3 separate regions of the Homo sapiens genome follow, and all the other regions are linked to region 3. Evidence: fine-mapped expression QTL. A gene starts in region 3. Each other region holds a variant in brackets. All regions are shown on one strand. Distances are between the middles of the regions. Region 1 overlaps F8 (coagulation factor VIII). Region 2 overlaps F8 (coagulation factor VIII). Region 3 holds the start of F8 (coagulation factor VIII).

What was found. PIP is the estimated chance that this variant, and not a neighbour inherited with it, causes the effect.
Region 1: its variant is fine-mapped to the expression of F8 in whole blood (TOPMed, PIP 0.92).
Region 2: its variant is fine-mapped to the expression of F8 in whole blood (TOPMed, PIP 0.95).

Annotation. Positions count from the first base shown.
Region 1 is chrX:154,978,130-154,986,434 of GRCh38, forward strand. F8 (coagulation factor VIII) reads right to left here. Exons shown (of 26, transcript NM_000132.4): 6 at 6,558-6,674. Among named protein-coding and RNA genes, the nearest start is that of F8, 40 kb to the right of the region's middle. RefSeq lists enhancers at 2,781-2,830, 2,931-2,980. The variant A/G (reference allele first, on the strand shown) is at 3,327.
Region 2 is chrX:154,906,018-154,914,322 of GRCh38, forward strand. F8 (coagulation factor VIII) reads right to left here. Exons shown (of 26, transcript NM_000132.4): 15 at 403-556. It also overlaps the pseudogene EEF1A1P31. Among named protein-coding and RNA genes, the nearest start is that of MIR1184-1, 23 kb to the left of the region's middle. The variant A/T (reference allele first, on the strand shown) is at 4,175.
Region 3 is chrX:155,017,886-155,026,190 of GRCh38, forward strand. It overlaps F8 (coagulation factor VIII), which reads right to left and starts at 4,838. Exons shown (of 26, transcript NM_000132.4): 1 at 4,525-4,838. The coding sequence starts at 4,667.

The sequences.
Region 1 (8,305 bases), 40 kb before region 3:
TTGGGTAAATTTCTCTTTCATAGCCTCAATTGTTTTTCTGTGTTCTTTGTATTTTTTTCAGAATTCTCTTGTATCTCACTGAGTTTATTTAGTATCAAAATTTGGAATTATTTTTCCAGGATTTCATAAATTTTTAAAGAGATGTTGGCCAGTTTACTTAAAAACCAATGGTCACATATACTGTTTTGCTTGTAAACTATGATTTTTTTATTTTGTGGATACATAGTAGGTGTATATATTTATGGAACACATGAGATGTTTTGATACAGGCATGTGATGTGAAACAAACACATCATGGAGAATGAGGTATGTATACCCTCAAGCACTTATCCTTTGAGTTATTAACAATCCAATTACACTCTTTATTTTAGAATGTACAATTAAGTTATTATTAACTATAGTCACCATGTTGTGCTATCAAATAGCAGGTCTTATTCATTCTTTCTATTTTTTTGTACCCATCTTAAATTTTTTTTATTTGGATCTCTTGCTACAGAATTATTGTGCTCCTTTGGAGTGTCATAGTTCCTTGATTTTTCATGTTTCCTGTGTCCTTACATTGATATCTGCACATCTGGTGTAATAATCACTTTTTCCAATTTTTAAAATTTGCTTTTGTAGGAAAGAACTTTTTCCTGAAGATGTATCTGTGGTGTTGCTTGGGTAGAGCACTTCGGTTTTGATTCTCGGTGAATGTAGTAGCCTCTGTATAAGATTCTAAACAGCATCAGTGATATTTGTGATTTTCTCAGTGGCTTAGGGTGTGGTTATTAGTGGAGGCTGTGGTGAAGTTTTTCTGAGAAGTGGGATGCCAGGTAGGCCTGTCTTCAGGCCCCAATGGTGGCAGCAGTGGGCTGAGTGTGCTTGTCTTTGGTGTACCATGGTGGCATATGATTGCACTGGTTTTAGGTCCAGGCAGGTTGATTTGTGGGCCTCCAAGTGGTTTACTTGGGTGCCAGAAGTGGTATTGATGGATCACATGGGTGGGTGGGTTCTCAAGTTCCTGGGCAGCAAAGTGGCATGGTTGATGGCAATCATAGCAATGAAACAACCTGAATCTCAAGTGGTCTGTGCTGGCGTTGGTTGTGGCTGCTATGGATCGCATGGCCAGTCTCCAGACCCTCAAGTGGTGCATGCAGTGAGTGCTAACTGTGGCAGTAGTGGCAGGTTGAGTGGGCCTGACCTCAGACCCCAGGAGGTGCTCAGGTGCCACCAGTGGTGGACAGGGCTAAGTGATCCCTAGGCCCCTGGATGATATGCTTGGGTACTGGGGGCAGGTAGAGCTGGGCTACGTGAACCTGCCCTCAGGCTCCTTGGTGGTGTGTGAGGTGCTGGTTGTGCTATGCAGGGGTGGGGTGATACCGAGGTCACTAGCAAAATGCTCAGGTTGGGGTGCAGCAGTAGCTGTGCTATAGCCCTGCTCTTGGTGAAGGTGGGGTTGCTTTCTCAGGGAGTAGCTGTAGGCAGGTAGCTTGGGAGCACAAGGTTCACTAGTGTTTTGGCCCCACAGCAGCCTGCAGCAGCAGTGGTTGTAGGTAGTGGAATTTGTTCTTGGAATATGTGAAAATGCATGGGCACTCCTCTGCTGGGTGGGGCAGGATCACTGCTCAGGGCTCCTGCCTAAGTCACGGCCATCATAGCAGGGCAGGATGTGTGGGCTGTGTTCTCAAAATGGTGCTGTGCTGCAGCTGCTTGGGAGAATTGCAGAATCCAGCGTGAGCTCTCTGTTGCAATGCCTTCACACGGTCTTTAGGCAACTCCCTATGCTAGTCTCTGTGCTGTCAAGGAATAAGGCGCTCTCCTGTGGCTAGGATTGCAAGAGTCCTTGGTGAAAATGAGGAACACTAAGGGTCTCTTACCTTTTCCCCACATTAGGAAGCTGTTCCAGACTCCCAGCCAATCCCAGGCAAACAGGCCTTATTTCTCTCTCCTCCCTTGCTTTCAATGCTTCCTGTCACTGCTCTGTTGAATTCCAGTGTTCTCTCTTAGATGACCTATTCAAAGTATAATTATCTACTTGCTACTTTGGTTCCTCTCCATGGAAGGGATGAACACTAGATGCATCTAGTCAACCATCCTGAAGCCCCTCCTGATTGTATTTTTGGATAACCTGTCTTTGAGCTTGCTGATCCTTTCTTCTGCCTGATCAATTCTGTTGCTGATGTCTTGTATTGCATGTGTCATTTTTTATTATACTTTTCAGTTCCAGGATTTCTGACTTTTTTTATTCCTTCAATTTCTCTGTTAAATTTCTTTGATAAACTTCTGAATTGTTTCTCTGTGTTTTATAAAAGTTTGTTGAGTTTTCTTAAAATAGCTATTTTGAATTCTTTGTCTACCAGATCATTCACCTGCATGTCTTTAGGATTAGTCACTGGCACGATTTTTTGTTCATTTGTTGAGGCTGTCTTTCTTAGGCTATTCTTATTCTTTGCAGATGTGCATCCCTGTCTACACATTGAAGAATTAGGTATTTATTCTCATGTTCACAGTCTGGGTTTGTTTGTGACTGCTCTATTTCAGTGAGCTCGTTTAGAAATTGAGTGGGGCTGAGTGTGGTGGCTCATACTTGTAACCTAGCACTTTAGGAGGCTGAGGCTGGAGGATTGCTTTAGGTCAGGAGTTCGAGACCCAGCCTGAGCAACATAGCAATACCCCAATCTTCCCCACCCCACACACAAAACCCGAAAATTTAGCCAGGCATAGTGGCACACACCTGTAGTCCCACTCTGGAGGCTGAGGTGGGAAGACCGTGTGAGCCCAGCCAGGAGTTCAAGACTGCAGTAATCTATGATCGCACCACTGCACTCCAACCTAGGCAACAGAGACCATATCAAAAAGAAAGTGAAAGGACTGGCTGTTGTATTTCCTTTTAGCACGAGAGGGCGCCCTGAGCCCAGGTTAGACGCAAGTCTCATGCTGGCTCTGCTACTAATTAGTGGAGATCCACAGAGGGCACTCAGGCCATACGGGAGAGTTTTCCGGTGTAAAAACCGTGGGTCCATGGTGACTTTCCGCCTGTGGTACTGCAGTGGCTTGCGGGTGGGGTCTCAGTCATAAAGAACCAATCCCCTTTATGTGCAACTATGGTTTTACTCGTCTTTGCAGTCCAAAAGGGCTTCACAGTCTTGCTCATGGGTTCAGGTTTTCTTAACTCTTCTGAAGGTAATTTCACGCATCGAGTTGTTACCTTGATGTTTCTGTGAGGAGATTATTGCTGAAGAGTCCTATTCCACCACTTTGCTCCACTCAGCATGCACTACTTAATCACAAGCAGGAGATGAAGGCCCGGAAAGAAGACAATAGAAGCCCAAACCCCTCTCCTC[A/G]ACCTTTATCTAGTAGACCACAGTGTCCTTATAATTCAGCAGTCAGCACCTTTTCTTATAAACGCCAGATGGAAGAGATGCATATATAAGGAAGGGTATGTGGGAAGGGGCATGGGGCCAGCCACTCTCCAGGAACCTCCATGCGTTCAGCTACTCAGAAGCTCCTGATGGGCAATTCTAATATGAATATTTATCTCTTTTAATTCTTATCATTTTTCTATCATTTCTTGATGTTAAAATCTGCTTTAAAACACACAGTTGACTCTTGAACAATACAGGTTTGAACTGCATGAGTCCACTTATATGCAGTTTTTTTTCAATAAATATAGTGAGATTTTTTTGGAAATTTATGACAATTTGAAAAAACTGTCAGATGGACCACATAGGGTAAAAATATCAAAAAAATTAAGAAAAAGGTATGTTATGAATGCAAAAAATATATGGAGATGGCCGGATGCAGTGGCTCACACTTATAATCCCAGCACTTTGGGAGGCCAAGGCGGGCAGATCACGAGGTCAGGAGTTCAAGACCGGCCTGGCAAACATGGTGAAACCCCATCTCTACTAAAACTACAAAAATTAGGTGGGCGTGGTGGCACATGCCTGTAATCCCAGCTACTTGGGAGGCTGGGGCAGGAGAATCGCTTGAACCCAAGAGGGGGAAGTTGCAGTGAGCTCAGATTGTGCCACTGCACTCCAGCCTGGGTGACAGAACAAGACTCCGTCTCAAAAAATATATATATATACTTTGGGAGGCCAAGGCGGGTGGATCACGAGGTCAGGAGATCGAGACCATCCTGGCTAACACAATGAAACCCCGTCTCTACTAAAAATACAAAAAATTAGCCAGTCGAGGTGGCGGGCGCCTGTAGTCCCAGCTACTCGGGAGGCTGAGGCAGGAGAATGGCGTGAACCCCGGGGGGCAGAGCCTGCAGTGAGCTGAGATTGCGCCACTGCACTCCAGCCTGGGCGACAGCAAGACTCCGTCTCAAAAAAAAAAAAAAAAAAAATATATATATATATGTATACACACTTATATATACATATACATGTTGATACTAGACTATTTTATCATTTATTACCATAAAATATACAAAAATCTATTATAAAAAGTTGAAATTTATAAAAACTTACATACTTACAACCATACATGGCACCATTCCCAGTTGGGACAAATGTAAACAAACGTAAAGATCCAGTATTAAATCGCAACTGCATAAAATTAACGGTAGTAGCCATCTCCTATTGTTATTGTGCTGAGCTCGAGTGCTGCAGGCATCCACTGAAAACTCTGCATGATGCTAATCATCTCTGCATAAGCATTTCATCTCTCCATAAACTTTGAAGGATACTTGGGACCCGTATAAAGTGCCACTAGTGATGCTGGAAGTACTCCCAAGAAGCAGAGAAAAGTATAAATAACATTTTCCTTTCTCTAGCTTACTTTATTGAAAATATACAGCATATAATACATACACAAAATATTTGTTGTTTATGTTATTGATAAGGCTTCTGATCAACAATAGGTCATTAGTACTTGAATTTGGAGGGAGTCAAAAGTTATACATGGATTTTTGACTGTGCAGGGGGTTAGTACCCCAACCCCCACATTGTTCAAGGGTCAACTATATTCTCAACCACATTTTGTTTGACCTTATGAAAGATTTTATCTATTCTTAGTACTTTCTATTGAGTTTCTATTTTGACCATTGTGTTTATAATTTTTATGAGCACGTTTTGTTATGATTGTTTTTCATAGAATCCTATTGTTACCTTATTTTTAAGTTTCTTTTTATTGATGTAAAATATACATATGTAATTTGCCATCATTACCATTTTTAAGTGTACAGTTCAGTGGTATATATACATAATGGAATACTATTTGGCCATAAAAAAGAATATTTTCATTTGCATCAACATAGGTGACACTGCAGGGCAATACCACATGTTCTCACTCACATGTGGGAGCTAAAAGAGTGGATCTTGTGAAAATAGAGAGTAGAATCGTGGTTACCATAGTCTGGGGTGGGGAGGGTGGAGGTGATGAAGGTGCCAGTTGGGACAAATGTAAACAAACGTAAAGATCCAGTATTAAATCGTAACTGCATAAAATTAACGGTAGTAGCCATCTCCTATTGTTATTGTGCTGAGCTCAAGTGCTGGGATTACAGGTGTTCCAGTAAGTGGTCAGAGCCCTGCCTGTCCCAAGTGGGTGAGGTCCCAAAGGGATTATCATAGCAGTGTTGGAAGGCCAGCTAGTGATTCATGCCAAGGTGACCTGTAGGATAAACCTGCTACAGCATGGTGCTGCTGCACGGCCATTCTGAATTTGCATGTCTTTGGCCAAATTATAGAGCAGAATTTCCAGGGCTGGGGATGGTAGTCCTTCCTCCCTCATTTGTCTCTGCCTGTACTCTGGGATATTTCTGCCTTCAGACAGTCATGATGTTTTCTGTGGGTTAAGGCAAGGACAAATCTCCCCCCAGGGAACCCAAGAAGGTGGAGAAGCTGGTTGAACACCTCAATGTCACTTTTTCCAGTGTAGAAACCATGAGTTGAGGGGAGATTTTCCATACACTTGGTGCTGGGCAGAATAGGAGGAAGGAGAGTCATGGATGTGGAAGTCTGATTCTCAAAGTTTTTTCACTTCTCTGTGGCTCCGGGAACTGTCTCATCCTCACATGTGAGCTCTGGGTTGTTGTTGGTGTAGATATTGGTGCTGTATGTTTGGTTTTGGTTTTCTGTGAGAGGGAGTAAAGCCAGCCTGCCTCTATGCCCCTATTTTAAAACTGGAAGGCATCTTATTGTTACTTTATTGATGCAGTATCTTCTTGAATCTTTATGAAAATAGAAGTAAGAGCTTCCGATGAGTTCTGTTCTGAGCCATAGCTTTTTTTATTCTGGGATTATTATTTTCTTTGTTCATCTTTGCATATCCCTTCCATATTTTAGGTTCTTTTTAAATGTCTGTTCATCCTTGGTTGCCCACTCACATTTAAGAAAAGGAAAGAAAAATCTGACTGTGGGCTGTATGTACATGGGTAAGCCTTCATTTTCAGGTGACCAAAAGAGGAATTGCCTACTATACATTAAGATCCCCAGAGGCCAGAGATCTTCAAGTATTCAGTGGGCTATATCCTCTGAGATGCCGAGCTGTTTGTGAACTGAAGTACAGAACTCTGGTGCTGAATTTGGAAGACCCTGAGGATTGTTGAGCAGGTGTGTACATACCTGGCAGAGACCTGTTTACATAACCATTGACTGTGTGCATTTTAGGCCAGGCCCGAGCAGATGCAGCATCCCTATCCTGCATCAAGGAGTTCTTTGTTTCTGAGTGCCAACTTTTCCCTGATGAGAGAGAAGGCAAAGATAGAGTCAGCTAAGCATGTGTCTCATGAATGACCGCCTCCCCTTTCTCCTTCCCTGCTCCCAGTGTGCTCACACCTTAAGCATTTTTGTCAGCAAAGTAGGCACACAGCACTTATCCTCTCAAAGTCAGTGTGAGGGAGGGAGAAGATAATTATGTAAAGGCAGACATCTCTTGCTCAAACTGATTTTCTCTCCCTCCATTTGTCCATGACAATAAGTGGGAATGGATAATAATAGAAGACAGAATATTGGTTAGCTTGAGGCATCAGGATTCAATTCTTTTTATTAGCTGAATTATTTAAAAGAAAGCTTATGAAAATCATCCTAGGGGCCGGGCGCGGTGGCTCACACCTGTAATCGTAGCACTCTGGGAGGCTGAGGCAGGTGGATCACTTCAGGTCAGGCGTTTGAGAGTAGCCTGGCCAACATGGTGAAACCCTATCCCCACTAAAAATACACAAATTAGGCGGGCATGGTGGCATGTGCCTGTAATCTCAGCTACTCAGGAGGCTGAGGCAGGAGAATCACTTGAACCTGGGAGGTGGACGTTGCAGTGAGCCAAGATTGTGCCACTGCACTCCAACCTGGGCAACAGAGTGAGACTCGATCTCAAAAAAAAAAGAAAAGAAAAAAGAAAATTGTCCTAGGAAAAAGGCTGTCTGTCAGTCCCTGTCTCCGTTATAATTGCTTCATCCCAGCTTATATTTATGAAACCCCAGGAACCTGAAAGCTCCCTAACACTGTCTCTGAAATTGATAAGGGCTGAAGCACTGGAAATACTATTGAACAGTGACTCCCTGGAGTTACCCCTTTGTGTGAAGGACTGGTAGCTAGTGCTAAAACTTTATGAGGCAGCCATTCATTTGTTCATTCATTCAAACACATATTTATTGAGCACTACTAATTGTAGACACTGATGATAGAGAGGAAGATACAGCCTCTGCTTTCAAGATGCTTACACTCTAGCTGGAATCGTCAGAGAAGCTGATAATTATAATAAAGAGTAAAGAGTGATATAATAAAGATGAGAGTAGGGTGTTACAGGGAGCAGAGAGGAGAAGAAATTTCACTTTGCTTGAAGGGAAAAAGATATGAGATCAAAGAAGATAAATATTAAATAAAGTAGAAAATACTGATATAGTATGATAAGGAATAAGCTCAAGATGCTGTGGAAATATAAGCAGGCATCTAATCCAGACTAGAGGTCATCCTGGGAGAAGGAATTAAGGAAGGGGATAACTGAAGTAAGTCAGACTTAAAGAAAAAGGAGAAGCTTACTTAGTGTAAAGAGGGAGACAGATTTTTCCAGGCAGAGGAAACTGCATATGCAGAGGTCTCATGCAAGAAAAAGCATTACATATTTGGGTGACATGGAAGATAAGGCAGGAAATGGAACACAACAAGGCTGGAAATGTCACCAGAGAATAGATAATGCATTTTGCACTTTACCTTGAAATTGAATTATTTTATTTGTTTTGTTGTTTGAGATAGGGTCTGGCTTTATCACCCAGGCTGGAGTGCAGTGGCGCAATCACAGCTCACTGCAACCTTCACCTCCTGGGCTCAAGTGATCCTCCCACCTCAGCCTCCCAAGTAGCTGGAGTACAGGT
Region 2 (8,305 bases), 110 kb before region 3:
ATCTTAGAAAAACTGTTGTGATTACAGCGTTATTTATATAGTGAAAAAAGAAACTGTCTAAAAGCTTGTTCAAAATAAATGGTTACATAAACTATGGTTCCATAAATTCATATAATAGACTATTATGCAGTATTTTAAAAACATACATAGGAAGTGTTTTTAATGACGTAAGAAATGTTTATGATGTGATATTTAGTAAAAAAACAAGAATCAGAATTCTGCATGGTATAATTTGAATACATAAGGAGAAAAATACATAGGAAAAATAGAACGTACACAAAGATAATTATGGAATTATTTTTCTATACTTTAAAAATTTCCAAAAGTGGGAATACATTATAGTCAGCAAGAAAATAAATATATAAAATTAATTTTCTTGTAATTCCACTGTCCTTAACTCACCATGATATTATCTTCAACTTCTGCTCTTATATATGGCCCCAGGAGTCCCAAATGTTCATTTAGTTCTCCACGGTATAAGGGCTGAGTAAAGGAGCCATCAGTAAATTCCTGGAAAACAACTTTCTTGAACTGAGGGACACTGCCACTCTGAGCCCTGGAGAAAAAAAGCAGAGGAAAAGCAATAATTTTATGTACCAAGTGGGTAGAAATGCCTCACATCCTCATTTTCCTAGGTGCCTGAGAAGCATTTTGCATAGTTAACCACTTCATCTTCCTTGAAATACTCTTGCCAAGCTTTATTAGCATGTAAGTTCCATGAAAGCTGGGGTTTTGTCTGTTTTGTTCCCTGTTGTATTCCCAGCACCTGTAACGGTGCTTGGCACAAAGTAGGTGCTCAAAAAATATTTGTCGAATGTTGAATGAATGTAAAGTTTATAAACATACTCCAAATATAAGAGAGTCCCATGGTCAAGCCCTTGGATCTCTTTTCTTTTTACTTTTTAAAGCCCTATTAAAATTGTGAACTAAAAAAATTGTGAACTAAAACATATACAATAAAGTGCATAAAACACAAATGCCTTTGGTACATAAATGCAATCATCACCCAGATCAGTAACATTGCCAACAACCCACAAGACTCACTGGATGTCCCTTTTCAATCATACTTTCTCCCTTCCCACTGAAGGTAACCACCATTCTGATCTTTATGATAATCATTTCTTTGCTTTTCTTTATAATTTTACCAGTTACGTATACATCCTTTAAAAATATAGTTTAGTTTTGCCTGTTTTGAAGTGTGTAAATAAAACATACTACATATATTCTTTTGTTTCTTCTTTCACTTAGCATTCTGGTTGTGAGATTCATCTATATTATCATATGTAGCTATAGTTTGTTCATTCCCATTGTTGTATAGTATTATATGAATATACCCTAATCACGGACATTTGAGTTGTTATAATCTTTGGCACTTTCATATGGACCTGCTATAACCTTCTGGTGCATATCTTTTGGTGAACATATATGTGCATTTCTGTTGGGCGGAATTACTAGGTATGCATGTGTTTGGCTTTGGTAGGTATTGCCACACTGTTTTCCAAAGCAGCTGGACCATTTTCCATTTTCATTAGCAATGTATGAGAGTTCCATTTGCTCCAAATTATTACAAATATCTGGTATTGACTGTGTTTTTACATTTTTGGATGTTCTATGAGGTTGAGCATCTTTTCTTATGAGTAGCAGTCATTTGGATGTCCTCTTTTGTGGAGCACCTATCCAAGCTTTTTTCTGCCAAGTTTTCTCTTGGATAATCTGCTTTTTTCTTGTTGAATCAAAAGAGTACCCTATATATCCTTGATATGCTTTTTTATATATTCCTTGATTGCTGGAGAAGAAGGACACAGAGAAGCCTGTTAAAATCTATTATATAAGTTTCCTTTGTGTGTCCTTTGTGTTATGTATTGCAAACATTTACCATTCCGTGGCTAATCTTTTCATTGTTTTTATGTTATCTTTTGATGAGCATAAGTTTGTAATTTTAATGTGTGGAATTTATAAAAAAAAACCTTATTGGCTAGGGCTTTTTGTATCTTGATGTCAATTCTCTTTCTTTCCCTACCCTGTGGTTATTGATATATTCTTTTACATTTTCTTTCTAAAATGTTTATGATTTTATATTTCACTTTTAGACTTGTAATGCAATGTGAATGGATTTTTGTGTATGGTGTGAGTTAGGAATCCAATGTAATGTTTTATCTATATAGATACCAACATTTTCCAGCATTTTATTGAAACTCTACTTCTGTGACACCTTTGTCATAAATCAAGTTTCTATATGTGTTAGACTAGTTTTGGATTTTCTATTCTATTTCATTTACCTGTTTGATTATCCCTATACCAACTGCTACATTGTTTTAATTATTATAGCTTTAAAATAAGTCTCAATATATTAGACAGCAATTACTCTCATCTTATTCTTCCTCTTCAAGAAGGACTTGGCTATTCATAAACCTTTACATTTTCATATTAATTTTAGAATCAGCTTGTTGAGCTCTACAAAAGGAACGTCTTGGGATTTTCATTCAGGTTGCACTGAATCTATAAATCAGTTTGGGAATAACCGACATTTTCAAATATCATGTTTTCCAATTCATGTACGTGGTATATCTTGAAAGTTATTTAGGTACTCTTTAAAGTTTCTCAGTAAATTTCCATAGTTTTTTTTTCCATAGACATTTTGCAAATTTTTAGCTAGACTTATTTCTAGGTACTTGTTAGTATTCTATTCCACTATTTATTTTGTTTTTACTTCCTCATTGTGTCTCACCAAGCTGACACACTCAAACTTAACTTTCCCCCTGGTCAGGACTCTCCTAGAAAGTGGCTCTCTTGGCTTATGACCATTCTCAAGGGAGAGACCTCAAGACTAAATTAGAAAGAAACCATAGCAATAAAAATCACAATGGGGGTCATCTTCCAGCTTCTAACCAGAAGGAAATCAACCACCTTCAGCTCAGCAAACCTGCAAGCAATGTGAGCTGTGTGACAATCCAACAGAGGTGGAGAGCCAGCACTGATTTGGGCTGGATGGTTCAGGAAGCCAGCTGCTTCCGTTGGCGAGTCATTTTCGCTGTCACAAGCCATATTGCCATGATAAACATCTTTGACAGACACATTCTTGACACTGAAGCCCACATTGTCCCCAAGAAGAGCTTCATTTAAAGCTTCATGGTGCAATTCAAAAGACTTTATTTCAGTTGTAATGTTAACTGGAGCAAAGCTGACCAATCATGCTGGGTTTGAGGGCACCAGTCACCACTAGGCCCACAAAGACATTACCAATACTACCAATTTTGTAGACTTCCTGGAGAGGTAGGCACAAGCCTTGTCAGTTGGATGAGCTGGTGGTATGATATAATCCAGAGCTTCAAGCGGTGTGCTACACTGGTATTGCCATCTCTGCAGGTGACTCTCCACCCTTTAACCAAGGCATGTTAGCAAGTTGTCAGCATTCCAACCAGAAATTGGCATAAATACTACTGTGTTGCGGTTGTAGCCAGTATTCTTAATGTAGGGCTGACTTCCTTATTGATTTCCACATAGCTCTGTTGGCGATGGCATAGTTCAGTGAAATCCATTTTTTAACACCAACAATTAGTTGTTTCACTTCCAGTGTGTAAACCAGAAGGGCATGCTCATGGGTCTGCCCGTTCTTAAAGATACTAGCTTCAAATTTGTTAACACCACTAGCAATAATCAGGACAGTACAGTCAACCTGAGAGGTGCCTATCATGATGTATTTTTAAATTGATACACGATAATTGTACATGTTTTGGGGATACATGTGATATTTTGATACATGAATACAATGTGTAATAATCAAATGATGGTAATTGGAATATCAATCACTTCAACCATTTGTCATTTATTTGTGTTGGGAACATTCCCAGTCTTCTCTTCTAGCTATTTTGAAACATACAATAAATCATTGTTAACTATAGTCACCCTACTGTAATATCGAACACTACAACTTATCCCTTCTATTTAAGTGTAATTTTACTGTGGGGAAAAGAAAGAGAGATCAGACTGTTACTGTGTCTATGTAGAAAGAAGTAGACATAAGAGACTCCATTTTGGTCTGTACTAAGAAAAATTCTTCTGCCTTGAGATGCTGTTAATCTGTAACCCTAGCCCCAACCCTGTGCTCGCAGAGACATGTGCGGTGTTGAGTCAAGGTTTAATGGATTTAGGGCTATGCAGGATGTGCTTTGTT[A/T]AAAAAGTGCTTGAAGGCAGTATGCTTGTCCATGGAATACTATGCAGCCATAAAAAAGGATGAGTTCATGTCCTTTGCAGGGACATGGATGAATCTGGAAACCATCATTCTCAGCAAACTATCACAAGGACAAAAAACCAAACACCGCATGTTCTTAGTCATAGGTGGGAATTGAACAATGAGAACACTTGGACACAGGAGGGGGAACATCACACACCGGGGCCTGTCATGGGGTGGGGGGAGGGATAGCATTGGGAGATATACCTAATGTAAATGACGAGTTAGTGGGTGCAGCACACCAACATGGTGCATGTATACACGTGTAACAAACCTGCACGTTGTGCACATGTACCCTAGAACTTAAAGTATAATAATAATAATAAAAAAAGTCATCACCATTCTCTAATCTCAAGTACCCAGGGACACAATACACTGCGGAAGGCCGCAGGGACCTCTGCCCTGGAAAGCCAGGTATTGTCCAAGGTTTCTCCCCATGTGATAGCCTGAGATATGGCCTCGTGGGAAGGGAAAGACCTGACCGTCCCCCAGCCCGACACCCGTAAAGGGTCTGTGCTGAGGAGGATTAGTGAAAGAGGAAGTCCTCTTTGCAGTTGAGATAAGAGGAAGGCATCTGTCTCCTGCTCGTCCCTGGGCAATGGAGTGTCTCGGTGTAAAACCCGATTGTATGTTCTATTTACTGAGAAAAGAGAAAACCGCCTTAAGGCTGGAGGTGAGACAGGCTAGTGGCAATACTGCTCTTTAATGCACCAAGATGTTTGTATACGTGCACATCAGGGCACAGCACATTTCCTTAAACTTATTTATGACACAGAGACCTTTGTTCACATGTTTTCCTGCTGACCCTCTCTCCACTATTACCCTATTGTTCTGCCACATCCCCCTCTCCGAGATGGTAGAGATAATGATCAATAAATACTGAGGGAACTGAGAGACCAGTGCCGGCGCGGGTCCTCCGTATGCTGAGCGCCGGTCCCCTGGGCCCACTTTTCTTTCCTGTGCTTTGTCTCTGTGTCTTATTTCTTTTCTCAGTCTCTCGTCCCACCTGACGAGAAACACCCACAGTGTTTCTCGTCACTGTGGGTGACGAGGGGCAGGCCACCCCTTCATTTTACACCTATTAATCAACCTCTCTTCATTCCATCCCACCCCCCCATACCATTCCCAAACTCCTTTAAGCACCATTCTACTCTCTATCTCCGTGAGATCCACTTTTTAAGCTCTCACATGTAAGTGAAAACGTGATATTTGTCTTTCTATGCCTGGCTTATTTCACTTAACACAGTGACATCCAGGCTCATCGATGTTGCCACAAATGACAGGATTTCATTCTTTTTAATGGCTGAGTAATAGTCTATTGTGTATATATACCACACAGTCTTTATCCATTCATCTGTTGATGTATACTTAGGTTGATTTTATATCCTAGCTATTGTGAATGGTGCTGTAATAAATGTTGGTGTGCAACTATCTCTTTGATACACTGATTTCCTGTCTTTGGATATATATCCAGCAGTGGGATTGCTGGATCACATGGTCGTTCTATTTTTAGTTTCTTGAGGAACATACATACTCTTTTCCATAGTATCTGTACTAATTCACACTCCCACCAATAGTGTACAAGCATTCCCCTTTTGCCACATCCTCATCAGCATTCATTATTTTTTGTCTTTTTGATAAAAGTCATTTAACTGGAGTGAAATATCCATTGTGCTTTTGGTTTGCATTTATCTGGTAATTAGTGATGTTGAGCAGTTTTTCATATACCTGTTGGCCATTTGTATGTTTTCTTTTGAGAAATGTTTATTCAGATCTTTGTTCATTTTTAATAGGATCCTTTGCTTTTTTGCCATTGACTTGTTTGAGTTCCTTATATATTCTGGTTATTAATACCCTCTCAGTTGTATAGTTTGCAAATATTTCATCCCATCCTGTAGGTTGTCCCTTCACTTTGTTAATTGATTCCTTTGTTGTGCGGAAGCTTTATAGCTTGATATAATCCCGTTTGTCTACTTTTGCTTTAGTTGTCTGTGCTTTTGATATTTCCCAGGCCATAAAATATTTCCCAGACCAATGTCCTGGAGCATTTCCCCAATGTTTTCTTCCAGTAGCTTCATACTTTCAGGTTGTATATTTAAGTCTCTAATCCATTTTGATTTAATTTTTGTATACAGTGAGAGATAGGGGTTTAGTTTAATTCTTCTGCATGTGGATATCCAGTTTTCCCAACATCATTTATTGAAGAGACTATTCTTTCACCAATGCATATTCTTGGCACTTTGTCAAAAATGAGTTGGCTCTAAATGTGTGGATTCATTTCTGGGTTCTCTGTTGTGTTCCACTGGCATATGTTTCTGTCTTTATGCCAGTACCATGCTGTTTTGGTTACTACAGCTTTGTAGTATAGTTTGAAATAAAGTAGCATCATGCCTCCAGCTTTGTTCTCTTTGCTCAGGACTGCTTTGGATATTTAGGGTCTGTATTAGTCTGTTTTCCTGCTGGTATAAAGAACTGCCTGAGACTGCATAATTTATAAAGGAAAGAGGTTTAATTGACTTACAGTTCCACATGGCTGGAGAGGCCTCAGGAAACTTACAATCATGGTGGAAGGTGAAGGGGAAGCAAGGCACCTTTTTCACAAGGTGGCAGGAGGGAGAGGTGACAGAAGGGGAAATGCCAGATGCTTATAAAACCATCAGATCTCATGAAAACTTACTCACTGTCATGAGAACAGCATGGGGGAACCTGCCCCCATGATCCAATCACTTCCTACTGGGTCCCTCCCATGACACATGGGGATTATTTTGCCTTACATGAAATGTAAGGCAAAAATTGCCCTTGCCCACAATTCCATAATTTTAGATCCTCCTAGATCCTTAATATAAACAATCAATTAATTGAAAAAATGAATAGATGTTTTCAGAAAAAAATAAAACTACTTTGATCTTTGGTTCACACAATGCACCAAAATAACTTTTAGTCTACAGGAAGTATTAAAAAGTTAAATGTAAAAAATTAAATTGTAAGAGAAAATTGAAGAAAGTATTGTTTTTTTTTAAAAAATCTCTGGATAGGCAGGAATTTTTACAAACAATATACTACAATTCAAGATGAGATTTGGGTGGGGACACAGAGCCAAACCATATGTTTCCACCCATGGCCCCTCCCAAATCTCATGTCCTCACATTTAAAAACAGAATCATGCCTTTCCAACAGTCCCCCAAAGTGTTAGCTCATTCCAGCCTTAACCCAAAAGTCCAAGTCCAAAGTCTCATCTGAGACAAGGAAAATCCCTTCTGTTTATGAGCCTGTAAAATCAAAAGCAAGTTAGTTCCTTCCTAGATACAATAGGGGTACAGGCATTGGGTAAATACACTCATTCCAAATGGGAGAAATTGGCCAAAACAAAGGGGCTACAGGCCCCATGCAAGTCTGAAATCCAATAGGGCAGTCATTAAACCTGAAAGTTCCAAAATGTTCTCCTTTGACTCCGTGTCTCACATTTAGGTCACCCTGATACAAAAGGCAGGCTCCCACAGCCTTGGGAAGCTCCACCCCCATAGCTTTGCAGGGTACAGCCCTGCTCCTGGCTGCTTTCATGGGCTGGCATTGAGTGCCTGTGGCTTTTCCAGGCCCACGGTGCAAGCTCTCAGTGGATCTACCATTCTGGGGTCTGGAGGACAGTGGCCCTCTTCTCACAGCTCCACTAGGCAGTGCCCCAGTGGTGACTGTGTGGGGGCTCCCACCCCACATTTCTTTTCCTCACTGCCCTAGCAGAGGTTCTCCACGAGGGCTCTGCCTCTGCAGCACACCTCCGCCTGGACATCCAGGCATTTCCATACATCCTCTGAAATCTAGGTGGACATTCCCAAACCTCAATTTTTGTCTTCTGTGCACCCACAGAACAAAGGCTGGGGGCTTGCACCCTCTGAAGCTATAGCCCAAGCTGTACTTTGGCCTCTTATAGCTGGAGTGGCTGGGACACAGGGCACCAAGTCCCAGGCTGAACACTGCAGGGGAGCCCTGGACCCAGGCCACGAAAGCATTTTTCCCTCCTAGGCCTCCAGGCCTGTGATGGGAGGGGCTGCTGCGAAGGTCTCTAACATGCCCTGG
Region 3 (8,305 bases):
TTTTTTGAAATGGAGTCTCACTCTGTCACCTAGGCTGAGCACAATCTTAGCTCACTGCCACCTCCGCCTCCTAGGTTCAAGCAATTCTCCTGCCTCAGCCTCCTCAGTAGCTGGGATTACAGGTGAGCACCACCATGCCCAGCTAATTTTTTTTTTTTTTTTGGTAGACACGGAGTTTTGCCATGTTGGCTAGGCTGGTGTCAAACTCCTGACCTCAGGTGATCTGCCTGCCTCGGCCTCCCAAAGTGCTGGGATTACAGGCATGAACCACCATACCTGGCCGATTGCTTATTTATATCTCCAAGCTTCACTGATCAGAAAATACTTTTCCTGAAAAGTTATCCTACAGAAATCAGATCATGTTGAGAGGATAAGTCTCTGGAATGTTAATAAAGGTATATGGAGCTAGCATAGTTGAACTGTTCACTTTTTGCATAAGAAATCTCACTGTTCATGTTTTCCCATCAGACAAAATAAAACAGACTGACGAGTTTTATATATTAATGTGTGAACAGTGCATAGCTACATGCCAATAAAGCAGCACAGTTAATGAATCAATAGCTTCTTTTTCTGCTCAGTGAAAATAAAAATGCTTTATACCAACTAGAAAAAAAAAAAATCCAAAAGCCCATTCTTTGAAAAGAGCACCACCAGCAACAAAATAGACAAGTCATTGGCAAGCTTATTCAAGGAAAAAAAGATAAATAGCAAAGATAGAGGAATTTAGGAATAAGAAAGGGCACATAACTACAGATAATGTGGAGTAAAAGAATCATGAGTGAGTGCTACATGCAACACTGTGGCAACAAAATTGAAAAAATAAATAAAGTTACTTCCTAGAAAGGTATATAATTATTGGAAGTTGAAACTTGAATTGACTGATTATCATAGAAGAGCCTGGAGGGGTGATTAAAGATATTGCAAATGCCACTAGGACCAAATGGATTCATAAGTGAGTCTCACCTAACTTTTAGACAATGGATAATTCAAATGTTACTTAAGCTATTCTAAGCAATAGAAAAAGATGGAGTACTCATCAATTCATTTGATAAAGCCAACAAAACTTTGTTTATTATTATTAGTAGGTTGAGTAGTGAAAATCTACTAAGAATAGTCTAAAGAAATAGTACATAGAACCCACTAATGATCAAATTCCATGAATAGTAGATTTTACTCCAAGAATGTAAGGGTATTTAGTGTCAGGACATCTATGAACATAATTTGTTCATCAGCATATCAAAGAAGACAATTCAGATGATACCAGCTGCTGAAAACTTATTTATGATAAACATTTTGTGGCAAATGAGAATAGAATAAACACCATTTACAAAAACCAAAACAGCAAATGTTACTCTAAATAGCAAAATACAAAAATTATTTCAAGTAAAATCATAGAGTAGAAGGAATGTTCACTTTCATTGTTATTATTTAACATTTGCTCTTGTTTTCTAATAAATTCAATAAGATAAGAAAATGAAATAACTGGCTATAAATATTGGAAATGAGCTAAAATCTGTCTCATTTAACTTATGATATGATTCAATACTCACAGAGACTTTAGGGTAAAATTACTAGAATTAATAGGCAAATTTGGTAAGGTAGCTAGATTTAAGATGAATATACAATGGCTGGGTGCGGTGGCTCAAACCTGTAATCCTAGCTCTTTGGGAGGCTGAGGTGGGGGGAATGCTTGAGCTCAGGAGTTGAAAACCAGCCTGGGTAACATGGCAAAAACCCATCTCTAAAAAATATACAAAAATTTTCCGGGCATGGTGGCCTGCTCCTGTAGTCCCAGCTACTTGGGGGGCTGATATACAGGAGAATTGCTTGAATCCAGGAGGTTGAGGCTGCAGTAAGGTGAGATCACCCCACTGCACTCCAGCCTGGGTGACAAAATGAGACCCAGGCTCAAAAGAAAAAGCTGAAAATACACAAACCAATAGCTTATCTCTATTTGGTACTAAGCACTCATAAATGGAAATAGGAGAAAACTATCTTATTAACAATAGCATCACACTTATAAAATACACAGAGATAAATGTAATAAGAAAAATATTTAAATTTATTACATTAATAAAATTAAGGTCTGAGTTTAATGAAATTGCAGTTAGAATCACAACAGGGCTTGGATCTTTTTAATTTGAAAAATATCTTAACAGTTTTATGTGGAAGAATAAAGTGTCTAAGAATAGCTAAGAAAGGTACAAAAAGAATAGTGAGGATTGCTTTCACCCACCAGATATCAGAAGATATCATAGGCTCACTGTAATCAAATCACTATGGTACTGGCATAGCAAGATAATAGTAGATTAGTGAAACAGCCTAATGAATCCAGAAATATATGCTAATATATATGAGAACTTTATATGATGAATGTGTTGATTCAAATCAGTGGCAAAAGGTGCCATCACAATAGGCTATTGATCTGGATGGAAATAAAACTAGACAAATCCCTCTCTCATGCCATATGACAAAAGTAATTAGCAGATAATTGAAGCAATGCATATAAAAAGCGAAACAGTAAACATCTTGCAAGAAAATCTGGGAGATTACACGTACAATCTTGAGGTGTGGGAAACATTTTTAACCAACCTTGCCGACTCTGAAGATATGAAAGAAAAGATATCTCTGATTATAAAAATTAAAAACTGTTTTGGTAAAAGTTATAAGAAAGTCAACAGACAAACAATAGATCTTGGGGAAAACTGCAATATACATGACAAAGAGTTAATATTTGTAATAATAAAAGGGTTCTCATAATTTTTTTAAATGAAAGAGTCCAAAGAATAATGGGCAAATCATATGACTAATTAAATCCCCCAAATAAATCCAATAGCCAACAAGCATTTAAAAAGATGCTCAACTTATTAGAAATAAAAATAACACAATGAAAGTAATGATGCAATATCACTCTACACCTGTAAAATTGGCAAATTTTAAAAACAGGATAAAACTTATCGCTATGTGAATGCAGAGAGAAGGCCATTTTCATACTTCGATGGTAGAAATGTTTGAAAAGTTCTGACCTCTTTGGAAATTAAAACTTAGAAGGAAACATTCCCTTCGTTCCATTAATATTCCTCTTGCAAGTTTGTTCAACAGAAGTAAAAGCACCAGTATGTAATGATATAGGATATAGTAGCCAAAAACTGGAATAAAGTGAACATATTGACTAAATTGTGATACAGCCATACCATAGAATCTTATATAGCCAATAAAAATAATGAATTAAAGCTATACCAATTGACTTAGAGTTCTAGTACGTGTTAATGAGTGAGAAATGTGTGTATAATGTCCCAATTTTATAAAACAAATAATGTCCAAGAAAACCTTTGTGTGTGTGTATGTGTATGTGAATATATATTATCATACTGGGGTTACCTAGCTGAGGTGGGGGAGAAGGGGACTGATGTGGAAAGAGGGTGGGGAGCCAAACAGAAAGAACCAAAAAGAATATAAAGTATGTACAACATGACCACATTTAATGTTTACACAGCCACAATCTATGTATTATATTTAAATCTTTATAATACACATTTAAAGAAGACAAAAAAATAAAATAAATGATTTCAGCATTCAACTCAAGAAGCAAAAATCTAACAACAAAATGAACCAAAGGAAATTAGAAGGAAGGAATAAATCAATGAAAGTAGAAGCAGAAACTGATGCAACAGAAAGAAAAAAGAGATTGATAAATCAAACCAAAAGAAAATTCTTGACAAGACCAATAAAATCAAGAAAACTCCTGGAAATATTATTTTTAAAAGAGAGGAAGAGAACATATACAACATAAGGAATGAAAAAGAAAATATAACTACAGACACAGAACAGTTTAACAAAATCACAGGAGACTCTTACATAACTTGATACCAATACATTATCAAATCTAGGGACAGTAGATTGCTTTCTATGAAAGTATAGACCAAAATATACCAATATTTACTGAAGAAGAGGTAGAAAAATCTGAATCAACTGATGACCATAGACAATATTGATAAAGTTATTTAATACTCTGCCTAAATGCACCAGAACCCCCAAAACACGAAAAGCTTCTGAACTCAAGGCTCATATTATCCTTACACCCAAAGTAGGAAAAGATATTATAAAAACACACATTGCATGTACACACAAGAGAACCAGACATGAAACTTGTGTGTGATATTGATTGGATTTCATTGCCTTGATTCTCTCTATGGAAGCTTGGGCAGGCAGAGGGAAGTTTTGTCTTTGTCCCTTCACCCTCCCTCTACTCCAGTCTCTAGATTCTGGAGGAGCAGCATATGACGAAGAGAAGCAATGGACAAAACAGAACAAAATATCAACAAATAGGTCAGACCTATGAAAAGAATTGGCAGTTAGCATTTCTGCTAATAACACAGATGTGTGCACACCTTACCCAGAAATGTTTCTTTGGGGCCCAGGTAGCATCACAACCATCCTAACCCGATGTCTGCACCTTCCTCCAAGCAGACTTACATCCCCACAATCCTGGCCCCGATCAGACCCTACAGGACATGCCTTTACCTTGCGTCCACAGGCAGCTCACCGAGATCACTTTGCATATAGTCCCATGACAGTTCCACTGCACCCAGGTAGTATCTTCTGGTGGCACTAAAGCAGAATCGCAAAAGGCACAGAAAGAAGCAGGTGGAGAGCTCTATTTGCATGACTTATTGCTACAAATGTTCAACTGGAGAAGCAAAAGGTTAATTCTTCTCTAAAATATCTTTAGCTCCCAGGAGGGGAAAAAAGTAAAATTTCTGATTTAATGAAAAGTCCCAATTTCTTTGCAGAGCATTTTAAGGAACTTTACCCACTGGATGTGCTCAGCACTAAGCAGTAACCGATAGGATTGCTTCCTTTTTATCAGTGGGAAGCAGCCACAGGAAGAACTGAAGTAGCAAAAGGGAGGCTGCTAAACTTAACCCATTCACTTCTGAGAGCAGTAGGGGCATAAGTCTGCTTTAATCAGAACCTTTAAGGAAAGGAGGAGAGGGATGGAGAAGTCAAAGTGAACAGGAGCTTTAATTTGTGCTCCTATTCCTAGCCTACTCCAACCCTCTTCCTGAGTGGCAGCAGCAAGAGAAGTTCTGGATGTTGTCGAAGATTCTAGAATTCACTTGCACTAGCAAGAGTAACCAGCAACCTGTTAGTCTCTCTGCTTTTGCCCTTGCCCCTCACACTGCTGCCAGTATGAGGAATTTATAGTTTTTAAAACTGTAGTTTTACATATAACATGAGGTTAGGCAACTATTGTTTTAAAAACTATAATTTATAGTTATAATTTAAAACTATAAAGCGAGTCCTGTCACTCCTCTTCTCAGAATCCTCCAATGGCTTCTGACCTCCATCAGGGTAAAACCCTACATCTTTACCATGGCCTAGGTCCTAGAGCATCCCACATGGTCTGCATGCCCTTTCTCCTGACCTCTGTAGTCTCATCTCACTCTGGTTATACTGGTCTCCTTACTCTTCCCTAAAATATCAAGCACACTCATGCCCCTGGACCTCAACACTTGCTATTTCTTTTACCCAAAACACCTTTCCCCCAGATTTCCACGTAGTTCCACTCCCACAACTCCTTCACATTTCAGCTCCAATCTTCCCTGTTGAATGAGGTTTAAATATGGAACACCACATTTATGTTGTAAGCTCTTTACCCCCACCTGCATCACTGATATCCCTCTTGGCTTCATTTTTCTCAATAGCACTCATAACCACCTGGCATTTATTCATTTATTTATTTTGTTTTGTTTTTAACCTAACACTTTTCCAGGCTGTTTACATTTGGCCCAGGTATAGGATATATCTCTTTACATCAGAATGTAGCCATGGTGAGCTCAAACACCCTACTCAGGTTAATGTTTATTAGGGAGAGTGAGGGCCCCTGCAGGGGCCTCAAAGTGTAAGAGATTATGAGAAGAAACTTGATCAGGGTTGCTATAAAAATGTTATCATTGAGCTCAGTTCTGCACAAACAAGAATGTGTTAGGGAGCAATTGGTATATTGTCGACTGGTTTGGAAACAGGCAGCAAGAAGCCCCTTTGATAAACACTCCTCTCTGACAGGTACAAGGATGCAGAGATGACAGCTGACACTATATGCCAGGAACTGTTCTAGGTGCTTTTAAATACAGGTACTATTCTTACCTTCATTTTATGGGTGATGAAACTGAAGCACGGAGAGGTTAGGCAACTTCTCCATGGCCACACAGCTTGTGAGTGGTAGCATTCAAACCCATGTACTCTGGCTCCAGAAGTCATGCTCCTAACCACTATGCTATACTTCTATGCCTCAGAAATGAAGAAATCCCAGTTCCCAACCCCCTGGGAATGACAGTCCAATGGAGGAGACAGAAAAGTAGACAGTTACAGTACAGGGTGATAAATTCACTGCCAGGTGCTACACATAGGCTATCTGATTTAATCCTCATGACAACACCGCAAAGTGGATACAGATAAAGTAACTGAGGTACAGAGAGGTTAAATGGCTTGCCTACAGCCACATAACTACCCATTTGTCCTAGACAGATATTGTCCTAGGCACTGGGTACACATTGATGAAAAATATAAGCAACTGAAAGAGGGATGATAAGCAATAATTACAATACATGAGTACATTATACAGTATGTTAGAAGGTAAAATAAGTGCTGTGCAAAAAAGAGAAGTGGGGTAAGGGGGAGTAAGGGTGGACCAGGTTGCAATTTTAAAGGAGGTTAGTCATGGAAAGTTTCACTAAGGTTGCATTTCAGCAAAGGGACATTGACTTCTACACTGAGGGCAATGGGGAGACACGGCCGGGTTGTGAGTAGAGGAGGGTGGTGATCAGAATTATCTTTTAGGCTGATCTTTCTGATCACTGTAGATAAAACAAACTCTAGCAGGATAAGGGTAGAAGGAGGGTGGCCTGTTAACCGGGGGTGAGAAATGGTGGCGGCTTGGGCTATGATGGTACCACTGGAGAGGGTGAAAAATGGCTGGATTCATTGTGAGGGTAACGTTTGTGGGAACTGCTGATGAATTTTGGATCTGTGGGCTTTGAGAAGGAAAAATTTGGAACACCAAGTTTTTTGGAATAAAGTTGACTAACTGGGATGGGGATGACTGCATGAGTAGCTTAGGGGCGGGGCACACTGTTAAAGGGCTCCTCAGGCACTGCAGGCATAGAAGCTCCTTTCTTTCCCAGTGCTTCTCTTATAGCGATTACAATGTTTTAAAAATGTGTCTTCCAGACAAATACAGTACAATCCAACATGTTTGAGGTTCTACAGTTAACAGATTGTATAATTAATAATCTGGGTGGGAATGTTAATCAGGAATGAAATACAATTTAAAAATTAACAAAGTAATGAGTCAGAGGCTATATTGATAGAAGCACTTTTTAAGGAATAGCATTCCCTGGCCCAAGGGCTTAGTTGATTGAAAATTTTATCTATTATTGCTAAATTTTAAATCAAAATATGGCCGGGCACGGTGGCTCACACCTGTAATCCCAGCACTTTGGGAGGCTGAGGCGGGCAGATCACGAGGTCAGGAGATCTAGACCATCCTAGCTAACAAGATGAAACTCCTCCTCTACTAAAAATACAAAAAATTAGCCGGGCATGGTGGCACGTGCCTGTAGTCCCAGCTACTTGGGAGGCTGAGGCAGGAGAATCGCTTGAACCCGGGAGGTGGAGCTTGCAGTGAGCCGAGATCGCGCCACTGCACTCCAGCCTGGGCAACAAGAGCGAGACTCTGTCTCAAAAATAAAATAAATAAATAAATAAATAAATAATCAAAATAGACCCCATTACCAAATTTTCATGTTTTCAAGGATTCTCTAAAACCTACAATATTATCAATTACATATTCACAAATAATTACTGAATACAATATGGTATGTGGTAAAGTACAAAGGAGTACTGTGGCCATTTGTGATAAATAGAAATCAAATTGGAAATCTTCATAGATAACGTATTTTTTCTTTTTTTTTTGGAGACGCAGTCTCACTCTGTCGCCCAGGCTGGAGTGCAGTGTCGCGATCTCGGCTCACTGCAAGCTCCGCCTCCCGGGTTCACGCCATTCTCCTGCCTCAGCCTCCCGAGTAGCTGGGACTACAGGCGGCCGCCACCATGCCCGGCTAATTTTTTGTATTTTTAGTAGAGACGGGGTTTCACCATGTTAGCCAGGATGGCCTCGATCTCCTGACCGCGTGATCCGCCCGCCTCGGCCTCCGAAACTGCTGAAATTACAGGCGTGAGCCACCGCGCCCGGCCAGATAAGGTATATTTTTATTCCTTTTATTTTTACTCAACTCCTATG